Regions from separate parts of the Homo sapiens genome. Here regions 1 and 3 are each linked to region 2. Evidence: fine-mapped QTL for protein levels in blood plasma. A gene starts in region 2. Each other region holds a variant in brackets. All regions are shown on one strand. Distances are from middle to middle.

Region 1 (11,084 bases), 160 kb after region 2:
AACCTAATGCTAAATGATGAGTTAATGGGTGCAGCACACCAGCATGGCACATGTATACATATGTAACTAACCTGCACATTATGCACATGTACCCTAAAACTTAAAGTATAATAATAATAAAATTTAAAAAAATAAAAATAAAACATAAAAAAATATAAAAAAAAAACAGAAAAAAAAGAAAATGAATGAAACACTCAAATGACATCTAAAAACGCTAACCCAACAAACCCACCTTGCATGGCCTGCTGTGTTGCCTATAGCCTTACTAAGAATCCGAAACTTTCCCCAGAAAGCAGGACTTAGCCCATACGAGATGTTGTATGGACAGCCCTTCCTAACCAATGACCTTGTGCTTTACCGAGAGACTGCCAACTTAGTTGCAGACATCACCTCCTTAGCCAAATATCAACAAGTTCTTAAAACACTACAGGGAACCTGTCCCCGAGAGGAGGGAAAGGAATTATTCCACCCCGGTGACATGGTATTAGTCAAGTCCCTTCCTTCTAATTCCCCATCCCTAGACACATCCTGGGATGGACACTACCCAGTCATTTTATCTACCCCAACCACAGTTAAAGTGGTTGGAGTGGAGTCTTGGATACATCACACTTGAGTCAAACCCTGGATACTGCCAAAGGAACCTGAAAATCCAGGAGACAATGCTAGCTATTCTTGTGAACCTCTAGAGGATCTGCGCCTGCTCTTCAAGCAACAACCGTGAGGAAAGTAACTAGAATCATAGATCCCCATGACCCTCCCTTGTCATATTTTTCTTTTTACTGTTCTCTTACCCTCTTTCATGCTCACTGCACCTCCTCTATGCCGCTGTACTACCAGTAGTTCCCCTTACCAAGAGCTTCTATGGAGAATGCGGCTTCCCGGAAATATTGATGCCCCATTGTATAGGAGTTTTTCTAAAGGAAACCCCACTTTCACCACCCACACCCATATGCCCCTGCACTTCAGGCCATACATTTCAATCCGTGTATCTTTAACCTCCTTGTTAAGTTTGTCTCTTCCAGAATCGAAGCTGTAAAACTACAAATGGTTCTTCAAATGGAGCCCCAGATACAGTCCATGACTAAGATCTACTGCAGACCCCTGGACCAGCCTACTAGCCCATGCTCCGATGTTGATGACATCAAAGGCACCCCTCCTGAGGAACTCTCAACTGCACGACCCCTACTACACCCAAATTCAGCAGGAAGCAGAGCAGTCATCAGCCAACCTCCCCAACAGCACTTGGGTTTTCCTGTTGAGAGGGGGACTGAGAGACAGGACTAGCTGGACTTCCTAGGCCAACTAAGAATTCCTAAGCCTAGCTGGAGAAGGTGATCACACCCACCTTTAAGCACTGGGCTTGTAACTCAGCTCACACCCGACCAATCAGGTAGTAAAGAGGGCTCACTAAAATACAAATTAGACTAAAAGCAGGAGGTAAAGAAATAGTCAAATCATCTATCATCTGAGAGCACAGGGGGAGCAAAAATGATTTGGATATAAACCCCAGGTATTCGAGCCAGGAGTGGGCAACCCCCTTTGGGTCCCCTCCTTTTGTATGGGAGCTCTGTTTTCACTCTATTAAATCTTGCAACTGCAAAATAAAAAATTTTAAAAAGTGCACCAAAAATATGTAAAATATCTTATATCAATAAAAAATAAAATAAAATAAAAACTTTTGGAAAGCAAAATTATGGCTAGATAAGAGGAAAAAGTACTAGTATTTGATACCAAGGATCCCCAACCCCTGGGCCACAGACTGGTACTGGTATGTGGCCTGTTAGGAACCAGACCACACAGCAGGAGGTGAGCAGCAGGTGAGTGAGCAGCCCCCTGTCAGATCAGTGGGGTCATGAGATTCTCGTAGGAGTGCGAACCCTATAGTGAACTGTGCATGCAAGAGATCTAGGTTGCATGCTGCTTGTAAGAATCTAACTGATGATCTAAGGTGAAACCGTTTCACCCCGAAACCATTCCCCCTCCCCCACCCATTTTTGTCTTCCACCAGACTGGTCCCTGGTGCCAACAAGGTTGGAGACCACTGTTCTATAGCACTGTAGGAAGACTATAGTTAACAATAACGCGTTATATAGTTTCAAGTAACTAAAAGGAAGCTATTGAACGTTCCCAACACTAAGAAATGACAAATGTTTGAGATTATTGATATGCTAATATCCCTGATCTGATCACTATATATTATATGTATCAAAACATCACTATGTGGCCGGGCACGGTGGCTCACGCCTATAAACCCAGCACTTTGGGAGGCCAAGGCAGGCGGATCACTTGAGGTCAGGAGTTCAAGGCCAGCCTGGGCAACTTTGTGAAAATCTCTGCTGAAAACACAAAAGTTAGCCAGGTGTGGTGGTGTGTGCCTGTAGTCCCAGCCACTTGGGAGAATGAGGCAGGAGAATCGCTTGAACCTGGGAGGCAGAGGTTGCAGTGAGCTGAGATTGCACCACTGCACTCCAGCCTGGGTGACAGAGGGAGACTCTGTCTCAAAAAAAAAAAAAAAAAAAAGAATAATACTCTCCAACTCCATCCAGGTTGCTGCTAATGCCATTATTCTGTTCCTTTTTATGCCTAAGTAGTATTCCATGGTGTGTGTGTGTGGGTATAATATATATATATTACATTTTCTTTATCCACTCATTGCTTGATGGGCATTTAGACTGGTTCCATATTTTTGCAATTGCGAATTGTGCCACTATAAACATGCGTGTGCAAATGCCTTTTTCATATAATGACTTATTTTCCTCTGGGTAGATACCCAGGAGTGGGATTGCTGGATAGAATGGTAGATCTACTTTTCATTCTTTAAGTAATCTCCATACTGATTTCCATAGTGGTTGAACTAGTTTACATTCCTACCAGCCATATAAAAGTGATCCCTTTTCACCACATCCATGCCAACATCTGTGTTTTTAAATTATGGCCATTCTTGCAAAAGTAAAATAGTATCTCCTTGTGGTTTAGATTTGCATTTCCCTAATAATTAGTGATGTTGAGCATTTTCTCATATGTTTGTTGGCCACTTGTATATCTTCTTATGAATTGTCTGTTCATGTCCTTTACCCACTTTTTAATGAAATTATGTGATTTTTTTCTTGCTGATTTACAGAACAAACACAATACAAGTGTTTTTTCTTGCTAATTGTTTGAATTCCTTGTAGATTCTGGATATTAGTCCATTGTCAGATACATAGCTTGCAAATATTTTCTCCCACCCTGTGGGTTGTCTGTTTGCTCTGCTGATTATTTCTTTTGCTATGCAGAAGCTTTTCAGCTTAATTAGGTCCCATCTATTTATCTTCCTTTTTATTGCATTTGCTTTTGGGTTCTTGGTCATGAACTTTTTGCCTAAACCAATGTCTAGAAGAGTTTTTCCAATGTTATTTTCTAGAATTGTTATGGTTTCAGGTCTTAGAGTTAAGACTTTGACCCATTTTGAGTTGATTTTTGTATAAAGTGAGAGACGAGGATCCAGCTTCATTTTTCTACATGTGGCTTGCCAATTATCCCTGCACTATTTGTGGAATAGGGTGTCCTTTCCCCACTTTATGTTTTTGTTTGCTTTGTCAGAGATCAGTTGGCTGTAAATATTTGGCTTTGTTTCTGGGTTCTCTATTCTGTTCCATTGGAACAGAACACATGCCTATTTTAATACCAGTACCATGCTTTATTGGTAACTATAGCTGGGCGCTTGTCTCCCTTTTCTTTTTTGCAAAACCGCCACAGCTATCATTGCTTGCTCTCAGTGGTGGCTTTCTCTCCAGAGGTGGCTTCCGCATCTACAGACTATATAAAGACAAACAACACAGATTAAAAGCACAATCATTGAAATCACAGAGCCTCCAAGTGTCTTGATCCATTTTAGCAGGTTAATAGCTGCTAATCCGTCTGTAGCTCCTTCAAGCACTTCAGTTCCTGGCATTAGTGTCAGATGTATCTGAGAGGCTTGAAATACTTGTTCCTTTAGCTTTGCAATATCCAAAGATAAATTTCTAGTATGACCTTTTAAATATCTCTTAACTTTTTCCCACTCATGCTCTGTTTCATTACACAGATGAGGAGTAATGCAAAAATCAGAGGTATTTCAATCACATTGTAACTGCATTCTATATTCTAAACTAACTATATGATCTCCTAGCCACATTACAGTTTGTTGGAGATCATTAATTTGATCAGCTAGTTTCTGGTCTATATTATTTTGGTAATTCCACAGCAGAGTAGAATTTTTCTACCAATTATTTACATAGTCTGCTGTTTGTACTGTGGAATGCAAAGCAACTCCAGCTACTGCAGCAGTAGCTGTGACAGCAATCAATCCCATAATAATGAAAATTAAAGTAGCAATGAAATGCCGTGAGTGCCTCAAAATCTTTTGAAGAATTTCAGTAATAATATGCACAGAAGGAGAGGCTTCCCAGGGATGGGAAAGCTTCTCAGGTATCCATACTCCTTCTTGGGCTCTTACCATTAAAATAGAATGATCAGTGTTATATAAGGAAGAATTCACACAAGAAGACAATCTACATTATTGACAAGTCACATGATGATTAAAGAGATCAAGTTTTAAATCACCCACTACAAACAGGAAAGGTGATGGACACAACTCTGTATCCAGACTGAATCATTGTGAGCCAATTTTAACATGTAATTAGGATTATATTGGGTTGGCTTAGTATATTTCCCTTTCCAAATCTTTATCATTTTTTAGTGCTGTTAATATTTTCCATAATTCCTTATGTTTTGCCCCTACAGCAGGCCATATCGTTTGGGGCTGAGGTACCACTATACCACCACATGCCCAAATAATAGGATCTCTTGCTGTACTTCTTATAGTGTCCACCATCTGATTATTTTGTTTAGATGCAGGGTGACCATTACTTACAGATTGAGAGGTGAGCCTCATAAATGCCCCTTTAGGGGACCAATCAATAATGACTCCATATGAATCATTATGCAACACCTCTGCTTTCCATGTGACACAATCTTCCCAAGCAAATGCCTTCATTTTTTCTGACCATGTCTAGTCCACTTTACAGATAGGTTTCTGAGGGTGGTAAACTTCAGTTACAGAAGCATAATCATGGTGATAAATACTAAGACCAGAAAGCATATGTAATTGTGCTATG[G/A]AGATGTTACGTTCAGGCACTATTGCCAGCCAAGATTGATGACTGGGAGGTGAACACCCATTAGCTTTTCCTAACCAAATAGGTAAATGCTTAAATCCCAATGAGACGTTCATAATTGTTCCTTCCTCTTGGGGGTGAGATGGGCCTCTATCATCAGTAGAACCAGGCATCCAAAAACTATCATTAGTGTATACCTCCATTGGTCTTCTCCTTTGTCTCTGAGATGTTCATTTGTACCATCACTCATATCAGGAGCTCTGGCTCTTCCCAGAGCCCTCTCTTCCTGGTGTGGCTCATGATAGATCTCCAGATGTTTGGTGGGCACCCACACAGGTGCCTGATTGTTACCTGGAGAGACACAAGAAAATCCTCTTCCCCATATAATTATCCGCCCTTTGATTAAATTTAGTTAAAGGGCCAGGGAAGTTAGTATGTGCTCTCATATGAGTGCATAGAAAGGGGAATGCCTTTGTTGTACTGCTTGCTGTAGAGAATGAAATAAAACATTAAGTTGGTCTTTAGTCACATTTTGAATTAAGGCATGTTCAATATTTTGTGTGGCTTGCACTACATAGGCTGAACCAGAAACAATGTTTACTGGCTATTTAAAAGTTTTTAACACTGTTATCACAGCCATAAGTTCAGCCCTTTGAGCAGAAGCAAAGTCAGTTTGAAAAACTTGTTGAGGTCCCACAAATGAGGCCTTTCCATTACTAGATCCATCAGTAAAAACAGTAATGGCCCTTTCAATAGGGGTTTTTTGAGTAATGGAAAGCAATATCCATGATGTCAATTTAAGAAATTGGAATATTTTGGATTTAGGATAATGATTATCAAGAACACCAGTAAAACCTGCCATATTAATTTGCCATTCCTGGGAATTAATATAAGCCTGCTGAATTTGTTGTTTGTCTAATGGAACTATAATTTTATTTGGATTATATCCCATTAACTTTGTTGTGCGCAGCCTTGCTTGTCCTACTAGTACAGCAATTTAAGTACAGAGTGAGCATTTTAGTTGTATTGTGAGGTAGAAAAAGCCACTCAACCAAAGCATCCTGTTGAACAATAACACCTGTTGGTGAATGTTTAGTAGGAAAAACTAAAAACTGTAATGGCTGCATAGGGTTAATTAGAGTCACTTGTGCCTATTGAATTTTTTCTTCAATTAATTGAAGTTCTTCTAATGCCTCTTTGGACAGGGACCATTTGCAGTTAAGATCAGAATCACCTCGTAAGGTAGAAAAGAGGTGAGACATAGCATAAGTAGGAATGCCTAAAGTAGGATGAATCCAATTAATGTCTTCTAATAATTTTTGAAAATCATTTAGAGTTTTTAAATTATCCCTTCTAATTTGAACTTTTTGAGGCTTAATAGTACTTTATTCTACTTTCATTCCTAAATATTGAAAGGGAGTAGAAGTTTGAATTTTATCGGGGGCTATGATTAACCCTGCTGCAGTCACAGCCTTTTCTAACTGTTTGTAACATAGCATTAACTCCTCTCTAGTTTCAGCTGCACATAAAATATTATCCATGTAATGTATGATATAACATTTTTAAAATTGTTCTCTAACTGGCTTAATAGCTTTTCCAACATAAGTTTGACAAATAGTCGGGCTATTTAACATGCCTTGTGGCAGTACTTTCCAATGGTATCTGTCCACTGGTTCTTTGTTATTTATAGCAGGAACAGTAAAAGCAAATTTTTCATAATCTTGGGCAACTAAAGGAATGGTAAAGAAGTGATCTTTTAAATCTGTCACTATGAGAGGCCAGTATTTTGGGATCATTGTTGGAGAAGGCAGCCCTGGTTGCAGTGCACCCATGGGTTGAATTACAGCATTGACAGTCCTCAAATCTATTAACATTCTCCATTCCCCTGATTTTTTCTTAATAACAAACACAGGAGAATTCCAAGGGGAGAGAGCAGGCTCTATGTGTCCCTTTTGCAATTGTTCTTGTATCAATTCTTTTAAAGCCTCCAGTTTTTCCTGTTTCAGCGGCCATTGCTCCACCCAAACCAGTTTGGCAGTTAACCAAACAAGAGGAATGGGACCCGGAGGCTCAGCAATGGCCACCCCTAAAAATGATACCCTAATCCAGTTGTATCTGTTTGCCCTTTTAGTTCTAAAGGTTCTGTTTGGCCATTTTCATTTTTTCCCAGTCCCTTCCCTGGGAGATATCCCATTTTTCTCATCATTTGATTACTGTTATCACTATACTGATCCATAGGAATAGATATTTCAGCACCCCATTGTTGTAATAAGTTTCTACCCCATAGATTTACAGGAATAGGTGTAATAATAGGTTGAATTGTCCCTTCTTGGCCATCTGGCCCCTGGCATGGCAAAATTAAAGAACTTTGAAAAATTTCTGAGGCAGCCCCTACTCCAACAATACCAATGGATGCCTTTTGTTTTGGTCAATGTTGGGGCCATTGATTTAAACCAATAATAGAAACATCAGCTCCAGTATGTACTAGCCCCTCAAAATCTTTTCCTTGAATGGTTACTGTACAAATAGGTCTTTTGTCAGACACTTGATTAACCCAATATATAGCTTTTCCTGCTGGGTTAGTACTACCAAAGCCTCCTGTTCCTTTTACTGTAGTACTTCCTAGCTTTGTATAAGGTAACAGTAACAACTGAGCAATTCTTTCCCCTGGGGAAGCAGACCATGGAATTGAGGAACTAATAACTAACTGAATCTCTCAGGTATAATCAGAATCAATTATTCCTGTATGTACAGTGACACTTCTTAAATTTAAACTAGACCTTCCAAGCAATAGACCAACTGTTCCTGAGGGTAAAGGGCCCCTAACTCCCATGAGGACCTTCTTTGGTGGCTCCCCAGGAAGTAAGGAAATGGGAACTGTGCTACAAAGATCTACACAGTACTGCCTGCTGTGGTGGGATACAATTGTTGTACTTTTGTAAGGGCACTGGCTGTGCCAGATATGCCTCAGTTTGTTGAGGGGCCCGAGGTGGGCCCCTCTTCCCGTTTCCCAAAAGAGGTTGCCCATCTTTGCTAAATTTAGGATGACACTGATTTGCCCAGTGATTGCCTTTCTTACACCAGGGGCATACACCGGAACTTTTCTGTTGATTGATGGTAATAGTTTTTGCCTTTTGATTTCCTTTTCTACATTCCTTTTTTTGTGTGTCCAAATTGCCCACAATTAAAACAAGAGCCTGAGAAATGGGGCATATTTTTTCCCACCTTTAATCCAGCCATAGCTTGAGCTAAAAGAGTAGCCTTATGTAAATTACCCGCAATGCCATCACAAGCCTTAATATATTCAGCCAAATGAGGCTTCCCTTGCATAGGTCTAATGGCAGCTTGACACTCTGCATTAGCATTATCATATGCAAGAAGTTGTATTACCATGTCTTGAGCTGTTTTATCAGTTACAGCTTTACGCACAGCCTCTTGGAGCTGAGCAATAAAGTCAGTATATGGTTCTTTAGGTCCTTGTCGGACAGAACATCCCGATGGCAACATCCTCCATTACTGCTTAATTGTCTAATCATCCCCAATTAGGGCCCAACTCCATTAACCATTCAAAGGAAACAAGCACAGGTGGCTGTGTTTGTGTGTTTTCTCTTGCCTGAGTTTGAGCTTCATCAGCCCACCAGGTTTTAAACTGCAGGTACTGAGATGGAGTGAGAACAGACTTTGTTAAAGTATCCCAGTCATATGGTATTAATCTATTATCAAGAGCCACATTTTTTAGTAAAGTTTGTACAAAAGGAGAATTTGGCCCATATTGACTAATGGCTTGCTTGAATTCCTTTAACAACTTAAAAGGAAAGGTGGTCCAATTAGTTATATTCTGTCCTCCTTGCTGGATTATAGTAATGGGAAATTGCCATGCATCTAGGTCTCCTTCAGCTCTAACCTTCTGAATAGAATTTTGTATAGCATCACCAATTCCTCCAGGTTTTAATGTTGCAGCTACCAGAGCAGTAAGTTTTGCAGCTAATTCATTTTCTCGACCATTAGGGGGAGAGGAAGGAAGTGGCCATTCACTTAATTCAGCAGGTGGAACCAACGGGCTACTAAAATATATCTGTTTTAGTTTTCCTTTCTTTAATTTCCTCTGGTTGCTGTTCCCCACATTCAGAATCTGAAGTTAATTTTTTACACTCGTTTTCCTCTTCCTTATCTGAATCTGCCTCATCATTTGTTTGAAATGGCTCAAGACCTGCCTTTATCAATGCCCACACTGACCAAAAAGAAACTGGAATTTTGGCTCCTTCTTTATGCACCTTTTTTAGATCTCTGCCAATTCTTTCCCATTCATCGAACTCCATTGTCCCTTGTTCTAGGAACCACAGGCAAAACTGCTCCACTGTACTAAAGAGTGTTAATAAATTCTGAGTACTAACTTTCACTCCCCCTCTCCATAATAAATGCCTTAGAAAGTTTAAACAAGCAGAATGTTTACTTTCATTTTGTCCCATTGTTACCTTGGTTCTTCAGAGTGCCCAGCTTACCCACCAAGCTTCTTTCAGCCATCCTCGGGTGTCCTTTGATGATATGTCCTTCATTTCCATATACTCTAGCATTTCTTTACCATGGTCTTCATAGCCCCACGTTGGGTGCCTGAAATTTTGGGGTGATCAGGCCCAACACCAGGCCATCAGGCTACAAAGTCCGGTGGGGTGAAAGAAATGAGAAAAGACAAGTTAAAAGTGCATAAATTGGGTCCAGGGGGCCAACACTAGATTGGAGGCTGCGAAGGCCCTGAGCTCTGGGAGCCCACACTATTTATTGGAGACCAAACAAAGAAGCAGATGGTGAGGACGTGCAGATGTGGGGGTAAAGAGGTGAGGGCATGAGGACGTGGGGGTAGAAAGGTAGTGGTGCATTAAGCGTAGCTGTGATGGTTTAGCATTTTCTTTGATGCATATAGAATATGCTCTGCTGCTTGAGATAATGGAGGACATGTTTACAAGTAAGAAGCAAGGAACCAACAAGTCTGTGCACATTCCAGAGGCTACAAGGGGGTTTATGCCCTGAGCCCCGGATTCCATACAAGCCACAAGGGGTTTTATGCCCTGGGCTTAGATTTTGGCATGTCAGGGCAGCCTTCCACCCTTTGGCATAGAGCTTGGTGTTCCAAAGGCCACGAAGGGTTTTAGACCCTGGACCCCAGACATCTTCCAAGACTCTTTTACATTATGACAGACAAGCTAGTCCTGCCTCACCTCTTCTACCAGCATTGTTGTATAGTTTGAAGTCTGGTAATGTGATGCCTCCAGATTTCTTCTTTTTGTTTAGTCTTGCTTTGGCTATGCAGGCTCATTTTTGGTTCCATATGAATTTTAATATTTGTTTTAGTTCTGTGAAGAATGATGATGGTATTTTGATGGGAATTGCATTGAATTTGTAGATTGCTTTTGGTAGTATGCTCATTTTCACAATATTGTTTCTACCCATTTGTGAGCATAGGATATGTTTCCATTTGTTTGTATCATCTATGATTTCTTTCAGCAGTTTTTTGTAGTTTTCCTTGTAGAGATCTTCCACCTCCTTGGTTAGGTATATTCCTAAGTATTTAATTTTGTTGCAGCTGTTGTAAAAGGGGTTGAGTTCTTGATTTGATTATTAGTTTGGTTGTTGGTGTTGTATAGCCGTACTCCTGATTTGTGTACATTGTTTTTGTATCCTGAAACTTTACTGAATTCATTTACCACATCTAGGAGCTTTCTGGATGGGTCTTTAGGGTCTTCTAGGTATACAATTATGTCATCATATCATGTCATTATATCAGTGAATAGTGACAGTTTGACTTTCTCTTTTGCAATTTGGATGTCCTTTATTTCTTTCTCTTGTCCGATTTCTCTGGCTAGGACTTCCAGTACAATATTGAGTAGCAGTGGTGAAAGTAAGAATCCTTTTCTTGTTCCAGTTCTCAGAGGGAATGCTTTCAACTTTTCT
Region 2 (10,919 bases):
CAAGACAAGAGTTTTTAGGAATGGAGACAAATTCACCTTAAACAAGAACCTGAGATTAAAGGTCTGCCTTTATTCTACCTAGCCACAGCCTAAATCCTTCCCTGATGGCTCTTGAGGAAGTTCCAGGATGGAAACTGATTCAGAAAGTCTGGCAGTCCTGGTACAGGAAATAAAACATTAAAGAAAGGAGCACTGCAGAGGGAGGCCCCTGTGACTATAAATCTAAAAAAGAAAACTCATGGAGACTAACGGAGGGAAGGAATCAGATTTATGGCATATTTGCTATGGTATACTCTCTCTTCTTATAATAAAATGTTAATTATTTATTAAGCTTTTACTGTGTGTCATGCATTTTCACATATGCTTTTATTTAATTTTCTAATAACTAACAACTCCATTTGGCAGATAAGGAAACTATGTATCAAAGAGTATATTTATTTTGTAGCCTTTCAGTAGTTGAGCCCCTAATCACAGAGTAAGAAGTGAGGACAGGTGGAAGCTTCAGCAACTGTCCTGAACAATTAAAATACACATCAGTGTGAATGACCTTCAGAATGTATTTCAGTCTGTTAATATACACAATAATATGTAAACTATACATGGCAGCTGAGAGTTGTGTTTAGGATCACAGATTCTTTTGAGACAGAGTCTTGCTCTGTCGCCCAGGCCGGAGTACAGTGGCACAATCTCAGCTCAATGCAACCTCCGCCTCCCAGGTTCAAGCGACTCTCATGCCTCGGCTTCCTGAGTAGCTGGGGCTACAGGTGCAAGCCACCATGCCTGGTTAATTTTTGTATTTTTAATAGATGGAGTTTTGCCATATTGGCCAGGCTGGTTTTGAACTCCTGAACTCAAGCAATCCACCCGCCTCAGCCTCCCAAAGTGCTGGGATTGCAGGCGTGAGCCACGGTGCCCAGCCAACATTACAGATTTTGTAGAGAGACTTCCTGAGCTTCAGCATGCTTAGTTCCATGATTACCTGCTGTGTGGCCTTGGACAAATTCCTTTCCCTGTCTGGGCCTATTTCCTATTACATTTAAAGCACTTAGAGCAGTGCATGGCATAAAGTGGAATTTAGCCAGGCTACCCGTAATGAGGGCTTACTTGATGTCAAGCACTGGGCTGTGTAATATATAGAAAGCACTCATCCTGAAGATGGTCTCATGGAATCTTCAGACCATTCTGCAAGGAAATCATTCTTTCTTTTCTGTAGTGAAGGAATCTGAAGCTGTGGCACATCCCCAATGTCATGCAATCATCTGTTAAGTTGCAGAGTTGGGAATTCAGACCTTGCTTTGTCTGCTTCCAAAGCCTGGGCTCAGTAACAAGCAAAGCAGATGGTGGTGTTAGTGTGCAGTCCTGCTTTTGCGCAAGCCCGAGGCATAAGCTGCTCTTCCTGCTTACAGGTACAGACACACATACTCTCCCGCCACAAAGACACACAGGCAGTATTCAAGTGAGAAACTTTCCCAGTGCCTGCGCCCTCTGCTGACTGTGCTGTAGCAATGGCTGGTCTGAAAGGCACTTTCCTGGAGTAGAATTGCTGGTGGTTTTGGAAATGACTCCAACAAATTGAATCCTTGACATTGGGAGATACTGAAGACATTGAATCTTTCTTATTTCCAGTTGCATGAAAACAAGAGGCTTTGACAAACCAAAGTATATTAAGACACATGGAAAAAGTAAGCTTTTAGTGCCAGGTGCTCTCTTTTGGCAATAAAAAAATGGTTTGAGCACCTTAAATTTTATTTTTTCAGAATGTGTCGAAGGTGGGGAGTTGGAGAAAGGTACATGTGGGAGTTTTTGCTCCTGTCGGCAATACAATAGTCTCCCTTGCTGAGAGACTCCTTGATGGCAAAATAGAAAATGTTTGAAAAATATGCAGTGAGAAGATATCTCATCATGCAGCTCCTCACCGACACACCCCACCATGCACACACCCATTTGTTCTTACAATAAAAGAAGGCCTCCAATTTTTACCATGCAAGAAATTATTCTCTGTCCCTCTCTTCTTTTCCTCTCTCCCATTCCTCGGTGCCTTTCTCTTCCAGAAAGAAATTTTAGAATGTCAGACCTCAAAGATGACCCAATACAATGCCACAGTTAAGAACACTGACTTCAAAGGCAAACCTGGGTTTGAATCCTGGTTTCAGCACCTTATGCAAGTTACTTAAACCCTCTGTGCCTCAATTACCTCATCTGTAAAATGGGCTTAAAAACAATACCTAGCTGATAGGATTGGTGAGAGATTTGAATGAACTAATGCTTGTAAGTCCCTTAGCTCAGAGCCTAGCACAGAGCTAATGCTTCCAAAGTATTCCTTGATATTGTCACCCAATCAAGCCTCTTCATTTTATAGGCAACAAAACTAGATTCAGAGAGAAGGGATTTATCTGCGATCATATGGCCAGTTAGTGGCAGAGCCAGGACTGGAGCCAGGCATCTCATCTCATCTCATCTCACCTGGTACAGACATCTTTCTACTGTACCACACACAGCATCGTGGATTTTCCCTCATTTCCTAACTTTAAGCAAAAGAGGTTGGGCCATTTCCCAGTTGGCCAGGTTTGTGCTGAACCAGCAATGTGTTGCAAGAGTCAGGCATCCTGGAGTGCATCCTGCGGTGCCGGCTCCCCTGTGAGCAGGAGCCAGCTCATGTCTGACAGTAACAGACTCTGTTCTAGGAGCTATCGAGCCCTGATAAAACTTATCCACAGAGCACTGAGCAACTGTCCTCTTATATTGTTATTATTTTATTTTGAGACATCTGTTGCCCTCTCAGGCTGGAGGGTAGTGGAGCAATCTGGGCTCACTGCAACCTCTGCCTCCCAGGTTCAAGAGATTCTCCCGCTTCAGCCTCCTGAGTAGCTGGGATTACAGGCACGTGCCACCATGCCTGGCTAATATTTGTATTTTTAGTAGAGACAAGGTTTCACTATGTTGGCCAGGCTGGTCTTGAACTCCTGACCTCAAGTGATCAGCCCACCTCAGCCTCCCAAATGTCCTCTTATTATTAATTTACTTTCTGGAAGCTGAAGCTCCAGAAAGAAGTTCACTAGATAGTGACACCACCACCAGCTTTCAAATGTTCTGGGAACAAAGTCTCTACATCCAGCCAGCCTCCAATCCACGTTCTTGAGCGTCTCTTTCTCTCCCCCCACCCCTCTCTCTCTCTCTCCAAAGACCCTCTCCTAATGCAGAGAGACCGGATCATTGACTATACTATGTGTCACTTTCCCCCACATCATACTATTTCACCTCAAATGCTCTTCTCTCTCCCTCTGCTCAAAGGACACACACAGACAACCACACATATGCCTAAGGTCTTTTGTTCTTTGGAAAGTGTTCAAATTGTCCACAGCAATATTTGGTTCTTGCTGGAAAAGGCCAGTAATCTACAGCCAGGGTAGGTTCAGTTCCTGGTGTCTCTGGAGAGGACAGATCCCATTAGCTCTGACAAACATCCCCAGTGTTCCTGCTCTTAACCTTTGTCAAATTTTCCAAAATCCAGCTAGACCCAGGGGCTCCTTGCAGGCAGTCGAGGCTGTGTCTGCTCCACTCAGTAGTCAGGTGGCCCACAGCTGCAAGGACCAGTCAGCTTTTTCTCAAGCCTGGGCCAGGCAAACTCTCTACATTTAGTAAACAGGGGCAAGAGGGATGCAGGGAGAGGTCTAAAAGATGGAAAAGGAGGGAGGGGTTATGGTTAGCCCCCTTTCAACAGTTCAGTGATAATGATGCTATAATTCTGTAGCAGAAAGTTTGCCCGCTTAGAAGTCAGGAGGGCTGAGTCCTAATCCTAGATCAGCCACTAAATGAACCATGTGCTCTTGGGCTGATCACTTTGCCTCTCTGCCTCAGTTTTCTCATTCTGCTATACAAGTGGGTTTGTCTTGAGAGTCTGTAAGAACCCTTCCAGCACTTCTGAAACACTGAAGTTTTTAGTGACAATCTTTAGTTCACATGACATGTTACAGTTTTTCAAGAACTTCCACATGCAAGCATCATTTGGAGCTACTGTGGGTTTGGTTCCAGACTACTGCAATAAAGTGAAAATTGCAATAAAGTCAATCACACAAGTTTTTTGGTTTCAAAATGCATGCAAAAGTTGTGTTTACCCTGTACTGTAGTCTATTAAGTGTGCAATAGCATTATGTCTAAAAACATCTTAATTAAAACATGCTTTATTGCTAAAAATGTTAACAATCATCTGAGCCTTCAGGGAGTCATAACCTTTTTGCTGGCGGAGGTCTTGCCTGGACATTAATGGCTGCTGACTGATCAAGGTGGTAGTTGCTCCAGGTTTGGGGTGGCCATGACAATTTCTTTCTTTCTTTCTTTCTTTTTTTTGAGATGGAGTTTCACTCTTGTTGCCCAGGCTGGAGTGCAGTGGCAGGATCTCGGCTCTCTGCAACCTCCGCCTCCCAGGTTCAATTAATACTCCTGCCTCAGCCTCCTGAGTAGCTGGCATTACAGGCATGCACCACCACACCCAGGTGTTTTGTATTTTTAGTAGAGATGGGGTTTCTCCATGTTGGTCAGGCTGGTCTCAAACTCCCGACCTCAGGTGATCTGCCCGCCTCGGCCTCCCAAAATACTGGGATTACAGGCACGAGCCACAGCGCCCAGTTCTTAAACTAAGAAAACAATGAAGTTTGCCACATAGATTGACTCTTCCTTTCTTGAAGATTTCCCTGTAGCATATGATGCTGTTTGATAGCATTTTACTCACAGTAGAACTTCTTTCAAAACTGGAGTAATCTTCTCAAACCCTACTACTGCTATCAACCAAGTTAATGCAATATTCATAATCTTTTGTTGGCATTTCAACAGTGTTCACAGCATCTTCACCAGGAATACATTCCATCTCAAGAAACCACATCCTTTACTCATCCATAAGAAGCAACTTCTCATCCATCCAAGTTTGATCATGAGGTTGCAGCAATTCAGTCACACCTTCAGGCTCCACTTCTAGTTCTCTTGCTATTCCCACCACATCTACAGTTACTTTCTCCACTGAAGTCTTGAACCCCTTAAAGTTATCCATGAGGATTGGAATCAACTTCTTCCAAACTCCTTTTAATTTTATAGTTTGATCTCCCATGAATCATGAATAATCATAATGGCATCTAGAATGGTAAATCCTTTCCGGAAGATTTCCATTTACTTTGCCCAGATCCATCAGAATCACTATCTATGGTGGCTATAGCTTTACAAAATGCATTTCTTAAATAATGAGACTTGAAAGTCAAAATTATTCCTTGATCCAGGGGCTGCAGAATGAATATTGGGTTAGCAGGCATAAAAACATTTATCTCCTTATAAATCTCCATCAGAGCTCTTTGGCAATGAGTTGCATTGTCAATGAGCAGTAAAATTTTGAAAAGAATTTTTTTTTTTCTGAGCAGTAGGTCTCAACAGCAAGCTTAAAATATCCAGTAAACCATGCTGTAAACCAATGTACTGTCATCCAGGGCTATGTTGTTCCACTGATACAGCACAAACAAACTCTATTTAGCATAGTTTTTTAGGGCCCTAGGATTTTCAGAATGGGCAAATGAGCATTGGCTTCAACTTAAAGTCACCAGCTGCATTATCCCCTAACAAAAGATTCAGCCTGTTCTTTGAAGATTTGAATCCAGGCATTGACTTCTCTCTAGTATGAAAGTCCTAGATGGTATCTTCTTCCAGTATGAGGCTATTTTGTCTATACTAAAAATCTGTTGTTCATTGTAGCCACCTTCATCAATGATCTTAGCTAGATCTTCTGGATAACTTGCTGCAGCTTCTGCTTTGGGACTTTCTGCTTCACCTTGCAGAAATCTCCATAGGCTTCACGTTTTCTTCTGCAGCTTCCTCACCTCTCTCTGCCTTCATAGAACTGAAGAGTGTTAGGGCCTTGCTCTGGATTTGGCTTTGACTTAAGGGAGTGTTGTCACTGCTTTGATCTTCTATCCAGACCAATAACACTTTCTCCATATCAGCAAGAAAACTATTTTGCTTTCTTATCATTTGTGTGTTCCCTGTAATATCACCTTCAATTTCCCTTAAGAACTTTTTCTTTGCATTCATGACTTGGGTAACTGTTTGGTGTAAGAGGTCTAGCTTTCAGCCCTTCTTGGCTTTCAACATGGCTTCCTCACTAGGCTTAATAATTTCTAGCTTTGAATTTAAAATGAGGAACATGCAAATCTTCCTCTCACTTAAACACTTAGAGGTCACTGTAGAATTATTAATTGGCCTAATTTCAATATTGTTGTGTCTCAGGCAACAGGAAGGCCCGAGGGGGAGAGAAAGAGAGGGAGAGAGAGAGATGGGGGAATGACCAGTTAGTAGAGCAATGGAGCAATCAGAACACACAATTACACTTATTAAATTCTCTGTCTTACACGGGTGCAGTTTGTGGTACCCCAAAACAATTACAACAGTAACATCAAAGATCACTGAGTACAGATCACCAAAACAGATAAAATAATCATGAAAAACTTTGAAATATTGCAAGAATTACCAAAATGTGGCACAGAGACACAAAATGAACACACAGTATTGGAAAAATGGTGCTGATAGACTTGCTTGACACAGGTTTGCCACAAACCTTCAATTAAAAAAAAAAAGCAGTATCTGCAAAGTGCAGTAAAGCAGAGTGCAGTACAACAAGTATATCTGTACCTTATTTTGTTTGTTTAATCCTCCTTAAAAACCCATTGATGTAGGTAAGGTATTTGGCAGATGACAAAACTAAGGTATGTGGTGAATAAGCAGTTACGGGCAAAACATGGCAGAGTTTACTGCCAAAATGAATGATCTCCACTTCTAGCCACTTCTGACTCAAGCTGCCCTTCTAGGTTTAGACCACTCTCCCCAGTGAAAGATCAACAAGACGGGCTCCTGGGAAATGCCAAAGAGGCTTTGTTGCCTTGGGTTCAGGGGTCAAAGGTCTAGGCTGTTCCTTAAGTCTTTTTGATGTCTTTTTTTAACATTTTTGGACCCAAGGGTGGGTTTGGCTTAGCTCCATACTCCACGTTTGCTTGCCATTTGAACTTCAGAGATGAAAGGCAGATCCCATAGCACTTAAGAGATTTTCCAGAACACTAGCTGGTCAGGGCAGAGCTAAACCTAAACGCAGGCCATCTACTTCCTACTGCTGAGCTAGTGCCCTCTGGAAGCATTGGCATATGGTGGTGGCCTCTGCTGCCCTGGCTAACTTGAGTCAGGGTCAGGGTCTTCCTACCTGTAACCCCTTCATCCCCACCCCAGGCACTGAAGCCCCACCATCTGTTTATGAGGCGGGTGGCCACAGAGATAGGCTGATGGTGAGGGGGTTTCACACACTGCGGTAACTAAGGCCTGAGCCCCACCCACTCTCCACCCCTGCGCTTAGTCCCACTTGACAGATAGAAGATCCTATTGTCCCTGAGCACTGTTAAGGGCTGAACTTTGTCCTCCAAAATCCATGTTGATGTCCTAACACCTAGTACCTCAGAACGTGACTGTATTTGGAGATAGGGTCTTTAAAGAGGTATTAAGGGTAAACGCAGTCATTAGGGTGGGCCCTACTCCAATATGACTAGCGTCCTTATAAGAAGAGGAAATGTGGATGTGGACACAGCCACACGCTGAGGGAAGACCCATGTGAAGACACAGAGAGAAGGCAGCCATCTGCAAGCCAAGGAGAGAGGCCTCCGAAGCAACCAAGTCTGCCAACACCTTGATCTTGGACTTCCAGCCTCCAGAATAGTGAGAAAATAAATTTCTGTTGTTTAAGCCCCCTGTACTTTGTCATGGCCGCTTTAGTAGACTCATGCGGGCACTTGCTGTAGACGCTGACCCCCTTGACCCTCCCTCGCTGCCCCTGCATTCTCCTCCACACACCCCTGAGCCCCAGCCCCAGATTCATCAAGTCCTTAGAGTCAGGAGAGTGGGCTCCATAAATCTGCAGCTACATTTTCCCATTTCAGGGCCTTTGAGGAGTGCTGGTTTGTGCTTCAAAGTGGGCCAGGGAAGGATAAACTGCCTTTGGAGCATTTGAGAGATTGAGGAGAGAACAGGAATCACCCAGAAAACAGACTGACGAATATTTTGAGTTAGAATCCTGCCACCCATGACAAGTCAGCTCCCACCCCTCCAGAGTCTCCAGCTAGAGCACTTGCAGTAAGAGTTCAGTGGGCCTTTCCAGGCAGCCAGGCATGTGCTGCCCTCCGGATTCATTAACAGGGTTTCTTGGGGTCAGAGGAGGTGCCAAAGCCCTGAGAGAAGCCAAGCCCCAGAGGACTCCCAAGTTCTCCCCGCAGACTCATATTCCTCTTGTAGGTGGGAAAGGGACGGAGAGGTGCAGGGGGAACGCCCTGTTCCACATGCCGTATTTACTCTGGGCATGGCTAATGACTCCAGGGCCTTATCATTCGGCCCTCAGACTGGGCTGGGCAGGTCTGAGAGTTAGGGAAAGTCCGTTCCCACTGCCCTCGGGGAGAGAAGAAAGGAGGGGGCAAGGGAGAAGCTGCTGGTCGGACTCACAATGAAAACGCTCCTTCTTTTGCTGCTGGTGCTCCTGGAGCTGGGAGAGGCCCAAGGATCCCTTCACAGGTGAGAAGACGTCCCCGCACTGTGTTCAGCTGGGTAGTCCCATGCCCTGCAACTCAGGGCTGCTCTGGGGTAGGAAAGCTGATGGGGAGGTGAAGAGGAGGAGAAGCTGAGGGCTTGCGTCAATGCATGGAAGAGACTCATCCAGTGACCGCCTGTGTATGGCCTTAATCTCCAGTCCTCAACAAGTCATCCTCCTGCCTCCACCTCCACGGAGGTGCCTTCCCAAGTCCCAGGGGTCTTCTTGTGTTGCAAAAGAGCAGGAACCTGCAGTTGTGGTTTGTAGCTCAAAGCGCCCCAGGACTTCCCCAGGGGACTGACCATCACTGTCCCCAAGAGTTTTTCTGTCCCTTTAAATCAGCCCTTCGTGATGTTCATGTAAAACTGTAGACCGCCCCACATCTCCCATTTTCCTAGATCTCAAAGACCTCAGCTCCAGGAGGGGAGCCATTTCCACTCTAAGATTCTAAGACTCTATAGGGCAGAGATGAGGCCGGGCAGGCTGAGTGGCAGAGAGGACGCTGATCCCACCTGTATCCTGCGTGCTGTCTTGCAGATCCCCCCCTCCCACCCCATCTTCTCTAGTTGGCCCCTGAGAAAATGGGACGAGAATGGGGGGAAGAGGGAGGCAGAAGTACATCTCCTGCTTACATGGGGGTTTGTCTCCAGGGTGCCCCTCAGGAGGCATCCGTCCCTCAAGAAGAAGCTGCGGGCACGGAGCCAGCTCTCTGAGTTCTGGAAATCCCATAATTTGGACATGATCCAGTTCACCGAGTCCTGCTCAATGGACCAGAGTGCCAAGGAACCCCTCATCAACTACTTGGATGTGAGGCCTCCTGGGGTCAGGGCTGGGGAGAGGTGGGAGCGGGAGGAAGGCCCAGCATTAGGGCATGGCCAGTGCCACATCAGTAGCACCGAAGGCCATTGTGGATTTCTTCACTTGGATGATGATCCATGGGGACTGATTCCCTGGGTCCCCATGGAGTTGGCTAAGCAGGCCCCCATGTACCCAAATGTCAGAGTTCTCTGCAGAAGGAAAGGGCTGGGAGTGAAAGCATCATCCCACACTGAAGGCCCCTGCTTCTGCTCTCAGCTGGGCAGCTTACTGGCTGTGTACCCTTAGGCAAGTTACTTAACCTCTCCCAGCCCCAGTTCCCTGGTCTGTAAAACAGATGGTTCTTCCTCCACTGCCTCTCCTACAATGTATTTATAAGAATCAGGTTAGTGCAAGTAAAATCAAATGAAGTAGCCAGAGGCTTGGTTTGATTTCCTCCTTCATGGCCATTTCTCTGCTCCTTTTACCTTTTATTTTCCAGCGTTGCCACTTCCTAGGCTCTGTAAACTCCAGTCTGTATTACCCCAGGCTCTGGCCCCTGGGAGCTTTCCCCTGGCTTCCTGGTGAGCACCCTTGTCCCTCCCCACCACCCACACCCTCTTTCCTTCTCACTCTTCCTTGCAGATGGAATACTTCGGCACTATCTCCATTGGCTCCCCACCACAGAACTTCACTGTCATCTTCGACACTGGCTCCTCCAACCTCTGGGTCCCCTCTGTGTACTGCACTAGCCCAGCCTGCAGTAAGTGGGGCCAGGAGCACCAGCAGAGAATGTCTGGGGGCTAGTCCTGGGAGGCCAAGCCTGGTACTCTGGGGAAGGGGGGCTTAGGTTCCAGAAACTGGCCATCCCTGCCACACCAGCTTCCACTCTCCATCTTTGAGTCAGCCGTGGAACTGCTTATAGCAGAGATAGAGCAAAGCCAAGGAAGAACTAAAATGTGGCTGCTGTCCAAGAGAGTAACTTTCATACTGATCAGAATTAATAGAAAGAAAGCCATTGAAAAGAGAAATCTTTGACATAATGACTCACTTCCTTTGGAACACCCAAAGGAATGTAGGGGAAGTTTAATTTAATTGGTTATTTCTGAGCAGGGAGGTGAGTCGGGTTCTAGTGTAGATAGTCTGCTTGTTTCAAGGAGGCTTGGTAGCCTTATCTCCTGGTGCACACAGGTGGGGCTGGTGGGGCACAATGGCATGGGTGGGTCCATTTGTCCAGAGGTAACTCAGAAGTTTCAGTGAGGATTGGAAAAGAAGAGCTACAGAAAGATGTCTTGTTCGATACAGGACAAGTCCCAGAGACAGAATGTCTCTGGAAACCCCAAGGCTAGAGATGTCCATCGGTTGGGAGAAAAGTTGGGAGTAATTTCCTGGGGCAATTGTTTATCCCTGAGTTTCTTTTGAAGCCAACCTCTGACCCACAATGGGTGGCAGGGACTGTGGCTGGCGCCTGATAAATGACACTTATCTTGGTGTGCCTCATGAGGTCATTGTGGACAATCAGGTTTGC
Region 3 (11,084 bases), 550 kb before region 2:
TAAGAAACATGCCTGTGGTCCCCTGCTAGTAAGAAGCTAAGTAGGAACTGGAATCAAATCCATCTAAGGCCCATGCTCTTCTCAATTCACCATGTAGCCACCATGGGACGGCATCTTTTGCTGAAGGGGCCGGCCTGCCACACCCATAATGATCACTGAAACTCTGTGCTGCGGGGCTGGGATGAGCAGCTGTTAAACCAAAGCCTGTAAGTTACCTGATCTGTGAAATGTTCATCTAAGATGAGTCTAAGCAGCGGGTCAGGCCCCAGAGGCACCATGTCACCTGTGAAGGTGGGAAGGAAGGACTTCTAACTCAAGTGAGATGCAGCCACCAGGATGCAGGGCCCAGCCTTCTCCTGTGTGCCTTCCCAGGTCTCTGGAACTGAACCTTGATTCTGTTGCAGACCACCCAAGGGCAAGCAGCTCTGGCCATCTCCCACTTGCCGGAGGTGAGTAGCAAGTAGTGTGAGCCTCACAGACTCTCTTCATTCACTGTCAGTCCATTAACCCGGGGACTCTCACAGTGAAGCCTCTCATTTTCCTCATCCCTTCCCTTGGGTAGCTCCCAGAGCTCCCCATCCTCAGTCCTTGCCAGCTGAGCACATGTCTATGGGACCAGATGTGCCTGACCCTGGCCCTACCCCTATACCTTCCCGCTGGGAGCTTCTAATTAGAAAGACCCCGTTGTCTGGTTACTATTATACACTCACTCTGTCTCTGACGCATGTAGGCTATTGCTCCTCAGGAGGTAATAGCTTTCTCATACTTGTCTATAAAAAATAAGTAATGGAAAGAAAATTCTAGAAGCTTCGGAAAGATCTCCTCTCATAGTTTCCAATCAAGCTAGAGCCATTTCCCCGTAAGAAAAGGCAGCTGTGCTGTGGCTTTCAAAGGCTTGATTTTGAATACAGTGAGAAGCAAAGCTGCCTTAGCCTAGGGTTTCTTCTTCCTGTTCCCCTTTCTTCAGCAGATAGACCCATCTATCTCTCCCCTTCCCACCACAAACGCGGGGAAGTGACGCAAGTGGCCACAGGCACCTCTGCCTTCCAGGGCTGACTCAAAAGACAGCAGCCCTGACCTCACCATTCTGAGGCCTGGCCCTCTGGCTGGTGATGGGAAGCCCTGTCTGGGAGTGCCAGGAGCCCCGTGTGTAGCCAACACTACGAATGTCACAGCCATGGAATGCCAGCACCCAGGTCTGGGATGGCTGCTGCCCACAAAAATATCTGGCAGACAAGATGTGACCCATGGACCAAATGAATCACCTCCTGAATTAGGCCAGCCAGCCACAGCCACGAGGGCTCACGGATCCTTTTTCCACCCAAGAGATGGCGTATAATCCAGACCAGTGGTTCTTAAACTTGTCTGCACAGTGCAATCATCTGGGGGATCTTTAGAAACTTAGCTGCCTGGGCTTCATCCCTGGAGATTCTGATTTAATTGGTCTGGGGTGCAGTCTGGGCATGGGAATTTTAAAAATCTCCTAGTTGATTTTAATTCGCAGCAACATTCGAAAAGAACTGAAATAGACAGACCCCTCACAACAATTCCAGACCTCAAGGGTCTTCATCCAGCTGCTGAATTAACACTTGGTGCCAAGAAACACACAAACACCCCAAAGGTTTACCTAACAGGCACTATCTGCCATGAGAGCGAGATCGATACTATAGCAATCTTCAGAGGATAAGACAAAGACTCTGATTCCTATTCACCTGCCAGATTCTTAAGGATCTGTCCACGGGTACAAAGCGAGAAACCAAGCAGACAGTTTTGCCTCTTGGGGTGGCCCAAGATAGAGACAGAATAGGGAACTCTGTTATGATTTAACAAATATAGACATTGGCATGTGAGGTGTCTCTCCTGGGGGCTCACACATCTCAGTGCATCTGGCATGGAATTCATCTATTCCGATTAAGCCCCTGGCATTGGTGGCAGATGGCTGAGCTGTTCCCAATGCACTTGGCATGTCCAGGGCACTGGTGAAAAACAGGTTTGTGCTCACATGTCCTATGCGGTGGAAAAGGGCAATGTCTTCTTTTAGCTCTGGAGGTGATTGGGGAACAGCCATGTAAAGAGGCTGGGTGCTAGGGGTTCACAGCGACACCCCGACCCTGAGTGATTCTCTAATGCTTCCATTTAAATATTCTTAACAAAATAAGGAGGACCATACCCCTTTCGTCTGGGGCCTAACTCAGGGCAGATTTGCCCTAAGCTGTTTTTCTTTATTTTATCACTAAAGCAACAGCAACAAAACCCTACTTCTGCACTCTAATCAATGACATATGTAATCTTAATTTTGGTGACTGGAGAGTGACCTAATGCCCTAAGGAGAGGCTCTGAGTGAGTCACGTGGCTTCTGGTATTCCCAGGTGGGCCCAGGGCACCCAGGAATGCTGTGGCAATGAGAGGGGGTCCCCAGGATGAGGGTGGGCTGAGGAGGACGTGTGTCCCACCGGCAGTACTGCAGCTATTATATACATCCGTGCCTACTTTTTCTTGACCAAAATCACAAACCTAATTTTTGCTAAAAAATTCACTCTCACTCTTTTTAAATTTGTCAGTCTTTCCTCCTTCTGGCCCACGATTTGAATCATCTCACACCTGTTTGCCCATCAGAAGTCACTTTATTTGTCAAGCTCTTCCTGATCACTCCAGCCCTGAATGATGACGATGATTCACTACAGCTAATATGTACCGTGCACTATTCTACTCACTTAGCATGTATTAGCTCATTTCATCATCACAGCAAATGTGTCACAAAAAATACTATTATGATGCTCATTTTACAGTCAAGGAAAGTGAGCCACAGGAAGGTTAAAGCTAACCTACATCTAAAGGCAACACTATACTATCTGGCACTTAAGTAAGCATCTACTTACACACACACACACACACACACACACACACTTTTTTTTTTTGAGATGTCTCCCTCTGTCACCCAGTCGAGAGTGCACTGGTGCAATCACAACTCACTGCAGCCTCGACCTCCTAGGCTCAAGCAATCCTCCTGCCTCAGCCTCCCATGTAGCTGGGACTACAAGCATGTGCCACACTCCTGGCTAATTTTTTTTATTTTTTTGTAGAAATGAGGTGCCTTGCTATGTTGCCCAGGCTGGTCTCAAACTCCTGGCCTCAAGCAATACTCTCACTTCAGCCTCACGAAGTGCCAGGATTACAGGTGTGACCCACCGCGCCTGGCTGCTTACATTAACCTCCAAGTAGACTCATCCATCTCAGGTCTTCTTCCCAACTAGACTAAAGCTCTTTAATGACTTACATCATACTTCAATTTGTTCTCTGTGCCTGGTGCCTCTGAGCATGAGGCAAATAGGAAATACTTGCTCAAGAACCTTCAATGATCCCCTATTGCCTACAGTGGACAAAAAAGGTCTTAATTTCTTCTAGGAATTACAGTGCAGTGAGCCTTGGATTTCCATTTAGACTGAGTTCTGTGAGAGAAGCACCCACGCCTGTCTTGTCCTCTATGGTGTCCCAGATCCCAGTGCCAGCTTGACACATAGTAGGGGTTAAGTACCTGCAGGATGAACACAAGTGTGTGTTGGGCTTCTGACTCCCATGACTAACTACATGATCTTGAGAAAGTCAGATAATCTCTAAGCCTCAGTTTCTTCATCTATACATTTGGGATAAAAATCCCTTATTGTCTCACAGGATTGATGTGAAGGTAAAAATCAAATGAGATAATGGGTACAAAAGTGTTCTGAAAATCACCAAACCCATTCAAAGGCATGTATGGTGACTATCATCCCAGGAAAGCAAAGTTCTACCCCTCTGAGCCAATTTCAGTTTTCATTTTCCTTGAGTCCTTCTTCTGATTGGCCACATGCCCATAGAGTTTGTTAATTCCTTTCTCTGCACCAGTGGTTGGCAAACTTTTTCTGTAAAGGGTCAGACAGTAAATGTTAGGTTTTGCAGGCCACGCAGTCTGTTGCCACTATTCAACTCTACTATTGTGGCACAAAAGCAGCTACTGGATGAGTGTGACTGGGTTCCAGTAAAACTATTTATGGGCCTGGCATGGTGGCTCACACCTACAATCCCAGCACTTTGAGAGGCCAAGGCAGGATGATCGCTTGAGCCCAGGAGTTCGAGACCAGTCTGGGCAACATAGTGAGACCCTGTCTCTACAAAAAAAAAAAAATACAAAAATTAGCTGGGCACAGTGAAGTGCACCTGTAGTGCCAGCTACTCAGGAGGCTGAGGTGGGAGAATGACCTGAGCCCCCAGGAGTTCAAGGCTGCAGTGAGCCGTGATTGTGCCACTGCACTCCAGCCTAGGTGACAGAGCAAGACCCTGTCTCAAAAACAAAACAAACTTTATTTATGGAACCTGGCCATGTGCAGTAGTTTGCTCTATGCTGTTGTTTGTGCAGAGTCTCCTGCCTAGAACACTATTAGCCCTAGTTCCACCTTCTCTATGTAGTTTCCCAATGCAATTTCTCCAGTCTATAGCCATCTCTCCATCCTCTGCTCTCTTAATGTACCAGATCCCTGGCATTTTGATTCCCACATGGAGAAAGGTAATCACAGTTTTGTCCTGGTCTCTCTTTCTCCTGAATCATACTTCCTATGTTTCCTGTGTATTTCCTCACACCACCAGTTAATGGGCCTTTGTAACTTCACTCTCATTTCATGGACACTTTTCACAAGAAGACAAAGGCTTGGGCACTTCCTTGGATTTTGCTCACTTTACTCCATTCTGCAATGAGGAGGCAACAAAGCTGGCTGGGGTAGGGATGGAGGTAGACAGCTAGGCTCACCCCCTGGTTCTGTGACTCGCTCCCAAACACCAGCCCCATGGCCTCAAAGCCTCAGATTCCCATTGCAGCAAAAGTACAAATTACCATCGTCACAGATCTCTGCAGCTGCTGGCTAATGTTAAATCCATACTGCAAGAGCCTATAGAGGTGATTTCAGAGCCTGTGTGGCTACAGCTGGCATCTAATTATATGCTGCCTTTTATTGTTTAATGATTGTTTCACATGTTAATCCCATCTCCCCAGTGAGATGCTCTCTGGATGGAGGCAGACATTAGTTTGGTGCCTAAGCTTTTTGGCACCCCGCTTGGCTGAAACCTGGGCCAAACTTTAAGTAGGTGTCAGATAAATACCTGTTGATTGGGTGGCAGGGGAGGGCAAGACAGCCTGGGGAGTCTCAGGCCAGAGCCCACCCCAGACCCCTAGGTCCAGGAGCACCTCACACTCAGCTGCACCCTGAGGGTCTGATACCAAGAACACACACCAGGCTTTGGACTTTGGCGTTAGCCGTGTGGCTCAGCTCTTGGCAGCTAGCTGATGAGAACAAATGCAAGACCATCAAATGACCTGTGACGTCTGGGGAGCTACTTCCCCTCTCAGGGCCTCAGTTTCCTTATCTGTGAAATCATGAAGTGATACTGGAGAAGCTCTAAGGGCCCCTTCGCAGGACTAAGATTTTACACATAAGATAGGGTGGTGTTTTTTTCTCATCATTGCTTCCTCTTCTATTTCAGAGAATTGGGTGTGGAGATGGGGGCCTCTTGGAGGCTAGCTAGCATGGCTGAATGGCAGCAGGAATAACCAATCTAAAGGAGCACAAAGAACATTTCTAACCGCCACGACTTTACTTTTTCACTGCTCACCACTTTTCTCTATTGTCAGCAAGACTCTATCTTAGCCAAGCCCAAGCCGGTCTACGCATTCTTAACACACACAACTCAAGAAAACAAAACAAAAAATACCCCGGAAGCCATTCACCATGAGCCTTTGCCACATTTCCTCTTTCTCAGCTCTTAGCAAATCTGTCAGCAGCAATTCTTTCACCCCTTGGAAGGAAGCCATCTCCAGGCTTAAGTCAGGGAGGAAAGCCTCAGGCCCCTCCTACAGGAGAATGTCCATCTGCAGCTGCCTTCCACACCCCAAACACCCGGTGCTTCTGTTGTGCTTGCCCTAGATGGGAACGTCTGCAGGCAAGGGGCAGACACCCATCTATCTGGGCTGGATTTGAAATACCCTGCTCAATGTCCAAACCGCATTCAAAGGTGAGGTTAGGAGTTCAAGACCAGCCTGGGCAACATAATGAAACCCTGTCTCTTCTAAAAAAAAAAACAAAAACAAAAACAAAAAAATTATCCGTGCGCCTGTAATCCCAACTACTCGGGAGGCTAAGGCGGAAGAATCGCTTGAACCTGGGAGGCAGAGGTTGCATTGAGCCAAGATTGCGCCACTGCACTCCAGCCTGGATGACAGAGCGAGACTCCATCTCAAAAAAAAAAAAAAAAAAAAAAAAGTCATTGGTCCCTTTGTGATGGTCTCAACCAAATGAGAAAGAGGAATCCCTATGGGGCCTTACTGCAGGGCCCCCTCCCAGGTCTTCGAAGGCCTGTGTTCTGAAATGGACTCCACAGACCCACCACAGCAGTGAAGGGGTTGATTTCCACAGGTCCCTCTATGGCACTGTCCATTGTCCCAAAATTAAAAGGGTTGGGAACTCCTTAACTGTGTTCCCTAATAGGTTATTTGCAGCAGAGCAGGGAAGGGGCTTTATCATGGAGCTTCTGCTCCATGTGGAATTTGAGCAGCTCTGGTAGGGTGTATTAACAGAGCAGAGGGAAAAAAGAGGTGGCGGGTGGAGGTTGAGAATGGAAAGAGACTCAAGTCTCCAAAGACAAAAACGTAGAGCAGATGGTCAATGTCAACAGTCCGCCAGTAGTAACTGAATGAACTGCCTATGGGTGAGGATCGTGAAAGGCACCTTGAGAGATGACGCAGATGGGATGTGACCCTGTCCTTGGGAGTCTGCAGGTGACCTGAGAAGGGAAGACAGAGATGGATG[C/T]GCTGTGGCACACCAGAGCAAGTACAGTGTGATCTGGGACAAAAAGCCTCAAGCAGCACAGATCAGGCCACTCCCGCAGACTCCTCAGGTTGCCAGCATGCCCCAGAGTCTGGACACGGGGTCCCCTGCTCTTTGAGGTGACCATCTCAGTCTCTGCACAGCTCAGCTAGAGTGGGTTATACCAGGGAACAGTAGCTCCCTTACAGGGACCTAAGTTCAAGCCCCTGCAGAGCCTCATTATAATATTAAAAACCGACAGTAGTCAGGCACTGCCCTGAAGGGTTCAAGGTCCTGATCTCATTTAATCCCCTAAATAACAAGAAAGATGCTGTTACTCTTCACCATTAGACCATGCTGCCTTGCACGCTGGGCCACAGGTGGCCTGTGCTGGCCATGCCCTTGGTCTTCTGTGAACTTGATCAAGTCCACCTCACTAAGACTCCGATTTCTATTTTGTTTTTTTAAGAGATGGGGCTCTCACTATATTGCCCAGGCTGGTCTCAAACTCCTGGCCTCAAGTGATCCTCCCGCTTTGGCCTCCCAAAATGCTGGGATTACAGGCGTGAGCCACTACGCCTGGCTACTTATATTAACTTCCAAGTAGACCATCCATCTCGGGTCTTCTTCCCAACTAGACTGAAGCTCTTTAATGACTTACATCCACTGCTACTACTTCTCTATGCCTGGTGGCTCTGAACATGAGGCAAATAGGAAATACTTGCTCAATACTTGCTTCAGTGGTTCTTGAGGTCTTAATTTCTCCTAGGAATTACAGTGCAGTAGTGAGCCTTGGATTTCCATTTATACTGAGTTCCGTGAGAGAAGCACCCGTGCCTGTCTTGCCCTCTATGGCGTCCCAGATCCCAGTGCCAGCTTGACACATAGCAGAGATTCAGTAAATACCTGCAGGATGAACATGAGTGTGTATTTGGCTTCTGACTCCTATTACTCACTACATGGTCTTGAGAAAGTCAGAAAATCTATATGCCTCAGTTTCTTCATCTATAAATTTGGGATAAAAATCCTTTATTGCCTCACGGGATTGATGTGAAGGTAAAAAATCAAGCAGTCCGCCCACCTCGGCCTCCAAAAGTGCTGGGATTACAGGCATGAGCCACCACACGGAGACTGATTTCTTTGTGAAATGCAGTTTATACATTTGTTGTGAAGATGAAATGAGATCTCAGGCCTCAAAGTGCTTAGCACAAAGTACACAGTAAGCACTCCATAAATGTTAGCTAGTGCGTCATCATCCAAATTATCATCATCACCATCATCATCATGATCATGATCATCATCATCTTCAGTAGTCATTTGTCCAAATTTTTCCATTATCATCTTCAGTAGTCATTTGACCAAAGCTTGGTCAGTGGGGACCCAATATGGGACCTTGATTCCCGATAGGCCCTTCAGCCAAGGCCACATTATGACTTTCATGGGTCCTAAGAACTTTTGTCTTTGGGGCCAAGGGCCCCTTCCTCCATTAAAAAAAACCCACTGAAAATTATATTCTATGATTGCATCGGTATAAAGACAAATACATCAATATCCTATATTAAAACACTTTCTTCAACCTAAATGTTCATTTTTTTTCTCATGATTTTAAAGAAATTAAAACGTTTTTGTGGACCTCTAAAGTCGTGTGTGCCTGTGGCACGATGCCTGCTGTGCCTCATGGAGAAGTGACCATACTTTCCAGCTGTTCAGTCCCAGGTAGGGCGACTGACTGTCCCAGTGTGCTGGGGCTGAGGGTTTTCTCGGGATGCAGGGCTTTCAATGCTAAAACCAGGACAGTCCGGGGGAACCAGTGCATTTGGTTACCCTAGCCCCAGGTCTGGACAGACTCCCTTCCTCTCTGCTGCATCCCAGGGGCACCATGTGCTCTTCTGTAAAGCTGTGCCCATGTACTCAATTCTGGAGGTTTTTCTGATATCCACAGCCACTCCAAGGCCAGGCTGTGGCCTAGGACACAACTGTGTGGGCTATCTCGGAAGAAGCTCCCTCAAGGCAGGGTCTTTGGCTTGTTCACTGAGGCGGCTCCCAGAACAGTGTCAGGCACACAATAGGGGTTCATTAAACATTGGCTTCATGCGTTGAAGAAAACACAAAGAAGCAGTAACACGCATGCACCCTAAACCCCAAAATAAATGTAAGGTAATTAAAAGGTTCCAGAATTTTATAAAGGTCTTGTAGGATTGCTGGTCCATGGACCCATTTACTTCTGAGACTACTGAACACCAGATGAGAATTCTGTCCTCTGCTTCTGAAAATAGATGACCCAAATCCTTTCCATTTCTGTTCTCCCCTGCTCCAGGTCTTCATGAAGCCCCCTTTTTAGCTCAGAGGTCTAAAGTTTGAACCAGACAGAAGAGGGTGACACTCAATCTTCTGAGATGGCCACAGGAATTTTCCCTTGGGACATCTTATGCCCTCAGGAGTTTCTAGAAGGTCTTCCTTTGGGTGTTTTCCTCCTTGGATTTCCAGCTAGGTCCCTGTCCCCTCACCCAGCCTCACCTAGGTCAGCGTCCTTTCAGTCTCCCTGAGCCCTTCATCTGACCATTCTGCCTGAAAAGTCCTCCCTTCTCTACATCTGACAGAATTGGCCTCCTGCCCCTGGAACTGACAGTGTCTTTTGGGATACCCACTCTTATCTAGAATTAGTGGATTTTCCAACAACATCAGCATATGCCCAATTATTCCAGCATTGCTTTGACTCTCTGTACGTTAGTGTTAGTGGTACAAGCCTGTGTCCCTCATTAGACTATGAGCACACCACAGTCAGTGACTGTACCTTTTCCATCTTTGTATTCCCAGACCACCCTGAACCAGAGTACTGCAGAGTTAATTAAGGATGGACGGTGGGTAGGTGAGTGAGTGGATCCCAATACCCCATCCCAGGCCAACTCTCTCCTAAGCTCTCTCAGTTCTTTCAGGCCAATTTAGAGAGTATTCCTTTGCAAATGATATATGCCATAAGGGATTGATATGCAGAATATATAAACTACCACAATACAAAAAAAAAAACCTGATGAAAAAATAGACAATGGACATGAACAGATATTTCTCTAAAGAAGATCTATATATGATCTACAAACACATGAAAAAATGCTCAATATCACTAATCATTAGGGCAATGCAAATCAAAACCACAGTGAGATACCATTTCATGCATATCAGGATGCTTATTAATAAAAACAATAAACAAGAAAATAACAAGCATTGGCATGGATGCAGGGAAACTGCAGCCCTGTGCATTGCTGGTGGGATTGTAAAATAATGCAGTCACTGTGGAAAATGGTATGGTGATCCTCAAAAATTAAACAGAATTACCATGTGATCCAGCAATTACACTTCTGGGTATACACCCAGAAGATGTGAGAGCAAGGACTCAAATATCAGAAAACCAGTATTTGAACACCCAGGTTTGCAGCGGCACGATTCACAGTAGCCAAAAAAGGTGGAAGCAACCCAAGGGTCCATTGATGGATGAAACCCAAGTGTCCACTGATGGATGAATAAACAAAAAATGTGTTGTGTCCATACAATGGAATCTCATTCAGCCTTGAAAGGGAAGGAAATTCTGACACATGCTATCACGTGGATGAACCTTGAAAACATTAAGCTAAGTGAAATAAGCCAGTCACAAAAGGATTAATACTGTGTGATTCTACTTATATGAAGTTCCTAGAATAGTCAAATTAATAGAGACAGAAAGTAGAATGGTGGTTGCCAGGGGTGGGGGGAGGGGAAAATAGTGAGTTACTGTTTAATTGGTAGGGAGTTACTGTTTAATTGGTAAGGAGTTTCAGTTGGGGAAAACAAAAGTTCTGGAAATGGATGGTCGTGATGGTTGTACAACAATGTGAGGTTATACTTAACGTCACTGCACTATGCACTTAAGAATGGTACATTTTGGCTGGGTGCAGTGGCTCACACCTGTAATCCCAGAACTTAGGGAGGCCGAGGCAGGAAGATCTCTTGAGGCCCAGAGTCTGAGACCATCCTGACCAACATGGTGAAACCCTGTTTCTACTAAAAATACAAAAAAATTAGCCAAGCGTGGTGGTCCATGCCTGTAGTGCCAGCTACTCGGGAGGCTGAGGCAGGAGAATCACTTGAACCTGGGAGGCAGAGGTTACAGTGAGCCAATATTGCACCACTACACTCCAGCCTGGGTGACAGATTTGAGACTCTGTCTTGGGGAAAAAAAAAAAAAAAAAAAAAAAAAAGGTAAATTTTATGTTATGTGTA

Which allele goes with the higher level. Positions count from the first base shown, and alleles are read on the strand shown. Strength reflects both the effect of a copy and how common the allele is.
For the plasma level of the protein whose gene starts at base 8,409 in region 2, A is the low allele of the variant in region 1 and G is the other (weak association).
For the plasma level of the protein whose gene starts at base 8,409 in region 2, allele T in region 3 goes with a lower level than allele C (weak association).

The links. PIP is the posterior inclusion probability: the model's chance that the variant is causal. Protein levels are from antibody-based Olink assays in UK Biobank. Linkage for the fine-mapping came from a reference panel and not from the study's own genotypes, which makes the PIPs less certain.
Region 1: its variant is fine-mapped to the plasma level of the CTSE protein (UK Biobank, PIP above 0.99).
Region 3: its variant is fine-mapped to the plasma level of the CTSE protein (UK Biobank, PIP above 0.99).

What each region holds. Positions count from the first base shown.
Region 1 is chr1:205,856,847-205,867,930 of GRCh38, reverse strand. It overlaps PM20D1-AS1 (PM20D1 antisense RNA 1), which reads right to left and starts at 5,852. Exons shown (of 3, transcript NR_046097.1): 1 at 5,333-5,852. LOC107985250 (a long non-coding RNA gene) reads right to left here. Exons shown (of 2, transcript XR_001738417.2): 1 at 10,352-11,084; 2 at 9,308-9,788. The variant G/A (reference allele first, on the strand shown) is at 5,139.
Region 2 is chr1:206,021,385-206,032,303 of GRCh38, reverse strand. It overlaps CTSE (cathepsin E), which reads left to right and starts at 8,409. Exons shown (of 9, transcript NM_001910.4): 1 at 8,409-8,580; 2 at 9,247-9,403; 3 at 10,037-10,154. The coding sequence starts at 8,513.
Region 3 is chr1:206,570,057-206,581,140 of GRCh38, reverse strand. The region is part of intron 2 of RASSF5 (Ras association domain family member 5); the gene reads right to left. It also overlaps a transcript of EIF2D not described here. Among named protein-coding and RNA genes, the nearest start is that of EIF2D, 37 kb to the left of the region's middle. RefSeq lists an enhancer at 5,234-5,283. The variant C/T (reference allele first, on the strand shown) is at 6,834.